Linked DNA regions of Homo sapiens. The protein of the gene in region 1 purifies or fractionates together with the protein of each later gene. This does not show direct contact. Each region holds a gene or a part of one and is shown on either strand. Other genes may lie near its edges.

Region 1 (4,024 bases):
GTTTGTTGAATGAATAAAAGCTGAATGGAAGACAAAGGTTCTGAGTTTATGACCCTTGTTAACAAGAAAGAGTACTTCCAGCCCAGTGTTCCAGCAGTCACCATTTAGAAAAGTGATGCTATGCTTTACTGAAAACCTACTAATAACATATATAGACTGCCAATCAAATAATCTGATTTGCTAATATTAAAAAATCAGATAAACATCTGACATATTCTAGATTCTCTAAGTTTAAAAATATTAAAAATTTCAGTCAAGCTCAACTAACCCATTAATTAAGGGCCTTGATTAAAGGATCAAAGACTATATTTTGCAAAGTTGCAAATATCAGGAAAATGAGCTTTTATTTTCCTACCTACTCCCTGAGTTCTACTCTTCACCATAAACTTCTCTGTAGAAAGTCCCCTCCATGACAAGGCTCAGACACCTAAAGATAATCAGTAATCTACCTTCTAACTCTGGCTCTACGGCCTCTTCTCACAAGCCAGCCCCCAGTGCTTGCTGTGCATCCAAGCTCACCCCTCTGCCACCCCTAACAGACATAAAAGGGACTAAGGAGCCAGCACGAACCCAGGTTGGAACCTGGTTTTCCAGGGGGTTATGAGGACATAGATATCAAAGTCAGAGGATAGAACGCACTCTCTTTAACAGTTTTTTAGCTCAGTTTGTAACTTTCAAATATGTAAATACATGGAATCTAGACCTTTCCTTATACTTTTCTCAGACCCCAAAAACGTTAGGAACAGGCTAGGGCAGGAGGAGAGGGACAAAAGATTTCAGCAATGCCATCTGACATGTCTCATTTCAAGGAGAAGCTCTCAAGTGACAATTCAGAAGACAGCGAATGTGCACCTGGAGGGGGGCTGATGTGTAGGCCATTCTTCAGACTCCACTGCACAGGGAAGATGCCAGGACTGTCGGCGTGGCACACAAAGGATCGCCGTGCGTGGTTCTCAGGACGCAAGTCATCCATTTCCACCAGAAAGTACTTCTCATCAAAAACCTATACATGCAATTAATAGATGAAATAGACAAATGCACACATATATATGTGCTTTCTCCTTGGCACAGCCAAACATATTACAAAAGTTCATACTCATGTGGGTATTAATAATACTAAACACTAAATGTTAGCTCTGTGTTATGTAATACATATAATTACTGTTTTAATTAAATGCTTTTCATGTATCAATTCAGTTTTAATCTTAACAACTGAATGAGGTAAGTACATATACATATATATACATATATACATATATATACATATATACATATATATACATATATACATATATATACATATATATATATATATACACATATATACATATATACACACACACACATATATATATAGTTTGTTTGTTTTTTTTTGGAGACAGGGTCTTGCTCTCTTACCCAGGCTGGAGTGCAGTGGCATGAATTTGGCTCACCGAAGCACTGCAGTCTTGACTTCCTGGGCTCAGTTGATCCTCCCACTTCAGTCCCTTGAGTAGCTGGGACAACAGGCATGCACCACCATGCCCAGCTAATTTTTTTTAATTTTTGTAGAGACTCGGTCTCCATATATTGCCCAGGCTTGTCTCAAACTCCTGGGCTCAAGCAATCCTCCTGCCTCAGCCTCCCAAAGTGCTGGGATTACATGCATGAGCCACCACACCTGGCCCAAGTACCTTTATCAACTCCATTTCACAGATAAGGAGAATGAGTTCAAACAGAGGTTAAATAACTTGCCCTGGGTTACAAAACAAAGAAGAAGCAAAACCTGGATCCAAAGCCATGTAGTTTGGCTCCAAACAAAATTTATTCTAAGCTTAGTGACAAACTTAGTTTAAGCTTATGCTACTATGTATTAGTTTTTCAAATCCTAGCCCAGTTTCAAATGCCAAAGAACGAACTTTATTTATTTATTTATTTAGAGACGGAGTTTCGCTCTTGTTGCCCAGGCTGGAGTGCAATGGCACAATCTTGGCTCACCGTAACCTCCGCCTCCCGGGTTCAAGCGATTCTCTCACCTCAGCCTCCCGAGCAGCTGGGATTACAGGCATGCACCACCATGTCCAGCTAATTTTGTATTTTTAGTAGAGATGGGGTTTCTCCATGTTGGTCAGGCTGGTCTTGAACTCCTGACCTCAGGTGATCTGCCTGCCCCGGCGTCCCAAAGTGCTGGGATGACAGGCGTGAGCCACCACACCCGGCCAAAGAGATAACTTTATGAACTTCCTCTGGCTTCCCACTAGCCCTCCCTTCAGACTCTAGGTAGGGCCTTCTGGCCCCACCTGCAGGCTCAGAATCCCTCCTTGCTTTGAGAATAATCTTCTTCCAAGACAGGGAAAACTTAAATCTCAATAGGTCAGAGGATTTAGCACCCAGGCAACTATTCCTCTAGTCACATTCAACTTTGGCTTCTATTTTCAGTAAATGTCCTTCTGCTCTAGTTGGAAACTGAAATTCTCTCGCCAATGCCTCAGTTGTAGTGACTGAGCAGGGCCTTGATAACCTTACTTCTTAGTTTTGTCAGTATTCCAAAAGATTAAATCTGAATCTGGAATACATAGCTGGAGCCAGTCCACTGCCAGAACTTTTAACACTAACTGCCTGATCCCCATTCATCTCCTCATTCCAATGAGCTCTGCATCTGGTTAGACGTTGATGAGACTGCCTGCCTCCAACTTTACAGATACCCTGGCCTCCTAAAGGAGTTAAATCTCCTTTACTTATATGCAGCTAGGCCTGCCCCAAAGAATGCGTCCCCTACTAGTCCAGTGCCCAGGCCCAAGGCTGCTTTGGCTAGGGCTACCAAGCTCTGAAGGAGGAATGGGCCACAGCAAACTGGACAAATACAAAACGTGCACAGAAGTAATTCTAGCTGCACGGCCTAGAAGGAAAAATGGGTTGGATCAATAGAGCTTAAAGATCAAAACACTACCCATTTCCTAAACCAGTCACCTTGACAGGGATTCTTACCAAGAGAGTTATCTCCATTTTACCTTAACAACTGTAGCAGGAGAGATCCCAAAAGGAGACCAGGGGTCTACAGCTTCCAATTTCATGTTTACAGAGAATGTATGAATGCCAATAACTTGTTTGTCCTGAAATGCAGACACCAAAAGGGGATGAAAACATAGTATCTGTATCAATCTTACACTCACATGTAGCTGTGATTAACAGAAATGTCCAGCTCTGGTAAATCCTATAGTTTTCTTCTTTTTTTTAAATGTGCAAAACTATCCAATATAATTTTCTACTCTGGAAAAAACTATCCAGGAAAAAACAAAACACACAGAAGTGCTTCTACTCTCTACATTCAAAGACAAGGAATATCTGGAGAAAAAAACAAATTTATTTTATCAGTTAAGACTATGTAGTTAAGGGTAAAAAAGAAAAGGTTCAAACTACTTTAGGAGAACTTGGGGAGAAAATCTAGACAACTGTTAGAAGAAAACAAGGATGATCATCAGTCCAGCCTTAACACACCCTCCTCCTTCAGAGACCATGGCATTCTTACCGACTGCAGGGGCTGCTTTACACTTTCACCTCCTGCGTTGCTTTACTCTACTGTAAGGGGAGCAATACCGGTCTATCACATGTTTTGTTTTTACCTTAAATAAGTAAGATGGTAATGGCTCTTCCTCTTCCTCTTTCACTTTGGCCAAAATCTCTTGCCACTCAGCTTCATTTTTTAGATGTCTAATGGCTTTAATAAAACATGACAACATGCTTTAGATGATGAGAAACTTATACTTTTTACCTGTCCTGAAAGCATTCACATAAACAAAAACAAGTCACTTTCCACTGGAACTAGAAAAGGGTTCAAGCCCACTTATATCCCTTTACATTCAAAGAACTTGCACCTTAACTTCAGTACTTTGCTCTATGCAGAGCCTGGACAGCTTGGCTCTATGAAAATACCTACAGTAAGATCATAATGATTGTTGTAATCCATAAAATTGTAATATAACATCCAAATTGGGGCACATAATAATAAATGCAAATTGATTTAAACAGTAACTCTAGAAATACC
Region 2 (2,189 bases), on another chromosome or scaffold:
TTCCATCCAGCATGTTTGTACTCTACATGCTTGTCCTTACAGAGGAAACGGGTTGGTTTTGACACAAATTTCCCTCTCTCCAGGAGTTGAGGAGCCAGAAACAGAAGATGGTCTCAGAAAGGGAGCGGCTCCAGGCAGAACTGGACCACTTACGAAAGTGCCTTGCCTTGCCTGCAATGCACTGGCCTAGGGGCTACCTGAAGGGATATCCCAGGTGACGGTTTCCCTTGCACTAGGCCGAACCTATAGTATAGAAATATTATCTATTTTATTACCTTGAATATTTAATATTTTTCACTGGGAGGTTTGAAGCTTACAAAATGAGAATGTGCCATGCATGAAGCAAAGGATTCCAGGCTCCAGAAAAAATGAATGAACTCACCTTGACGTCAATGCAATTGAATCACCGTTGTCATTCAGCGAGCAACCAATGTAGGATTGCCCACAGTTTTTCTTTTTAAAGGTGGTTTTCGCCCTTCCTCTCCCACATTATTTCTTAATCTGAACATGAAGGCTCCATTAGCAACACTAAAACTTGATCATTAACAGCCCCCTGTGCATATGAGTGGATCAAACCGGTTCTGTTCTTTCTTGTGTTGCCATGTTACTATGCCTCAAGCCCAGTTTGCTTTTGCCGCAGCGATGGGGCCAGTCTCATTCCTCCCCAGGAGTGAAACTTGCTTCAGCTGAAAAGGTTGGGTGCATTGTCAGTAAAAAGGGCTTATTTGTTTCATTTTACTTTCCTGCAAAATTTTCTTCAAAGCAACAAGTCCTAGGAGCACACAAAGCAACCCAAAGGCTTTTCCCTGGAAAAGCTCTTTCTTACCTAAAGATAAAACCAATTCACAAACTGAAGGTAGCTTTTTATTACTCCGTGGGGAGCATGTACAGAGCTCTGTGTATACACAGCTTCACACCCACCAGATTGTTACTACAGTGGGTTGGGTTTTCATACAGACGTAAATTTTGAGAGAAAAGTCAAAGGTGCTTCAGCCTTGTACTGTGTATATATATTAAAAAAAAAACAAAGTTTTGTATGTTTTTATTACTTTAACTATTGTTATAAAAAGCCTGCCATTTTTAATATGTGGTTTGGGGGATTTTTGTTTGTTTTTCCTGTTTGGGGGTTTTGTTTGTTGTTTTGGTTTTTTTTGGGCAAAAAAAAAAAAAAAACCTTGCTTTTAGTGTTTGTACTGCTGCTGGTCAGGACATTAAAATATTGAAGTGTTTTTAAAAATTAAAGAAGAAGAAAAGTAAAAGAGCTTACCACTGGCGCCTATGCGATCACTTCATTTTTAGTTTGAGTTGCACCAGAAGCTGCCGTAGAAAGCCATGCGCTACTGCTTACCTCCTCCACTCCCCCTGCCTGCCCCCAGCATCTGGACAAGCTAATAGCAAATATTACCCATTGCTATCAAGGGAGGAGGGGGTAGTCTGTAGAACCCATGTGTGACAGTCATGTGCACACATGGGCGGGGGCTTTTAAAAACCTTTCAGGAAGTCAATGATTTCTGTGATTGATATAATTCTAAGGTGTCTGAGAGCAGGTACAGAATAGGAACTTCAGAGGCTTTGTTTAAACGCAAAGCTTTGTAAAAGCCACAAGGTCTGAGCTGAACCCCTCCTTTTTGAACTTACTGTGACAAGCACAGGAACGGTCAGAAACTGGGCTCATCACACCAAGGCAAAGCAACGGGCGAGTCTTCCTCCTTGTCCTAGTTACTGCCTATGGAGGCAGTGTTTAGATCAAGAAGGCCTCTCTTGCTCCCAAGGGCCCTCACCAGAGGCCAGGGCTGCCAGTCACTGGTCTGGGGGGTGGAGGCCTGAGCTGAGGGCAGGGTGCCTGACCTGTGTGCCGGCTGCTCACTGCTGTGACCAGCAGCCGAGCCCTTGGCCCTAGCCCTTGCTGCGCAGAACAGCTTGCTGGCAGCTGGCATCGTGTCGCTTTATCTGCCCCCGCACAGTTTGCTTTGTACGTCTGCCAAGAATCTTCCAGTTATTAGCAAACTCAGACGAATGTACCGCCAGTATTATCAGCAGTCAACAAGCACCTTCCTCTCCACAGAAGCAGCTGGAAGAGAACTCGAGGGGCTGTGCTGCAGGCCTCCCCTCGAAAGACACTGGGAGGTCAGCATGTTCCACAGGTGTTCAGAGGGAGTCTGCTACAAACTATCAGGGCAAAATCTCAC

Evidence for each region.
Region 2: the proteins of SFMBT1 (region 1) and GSE1 purify together in Homo sapiens (affinity purification with mass spectrometry; one large-scale study listed by BioGRID and IntAct). This does not show direct contact.

The regions. Positions count from the first base shown.
Region 1 is NC_000003.12:52,927,339-52,931,362, forward strand, and holds part of SFMBT1 (scm-like with four MBT domains protein 1), read right to left. Parts: intron 3,698-4,024; coding exon 3,603-3,697; intron 3,093-3,602; coding exon 2,991-3,092; intron 1,004-2,990; coding exon 853-1,003; intron 1-852. UniProt on the Homo sapiens protein: Histone-binding protein, which is part of various corepressor complexes. Mediates the recruitment of corepressor complexes to target genes, followed by chromatin compaction and repression of transcription.
Region 2 is NC_000016.10:85,672,322-85,674,510, forward strand, and holds part of GSE1 (genetic suppressor element 1), read left to right. Parts: intron 1-83; coding exon 84-218; 3' UTR 219-2,189.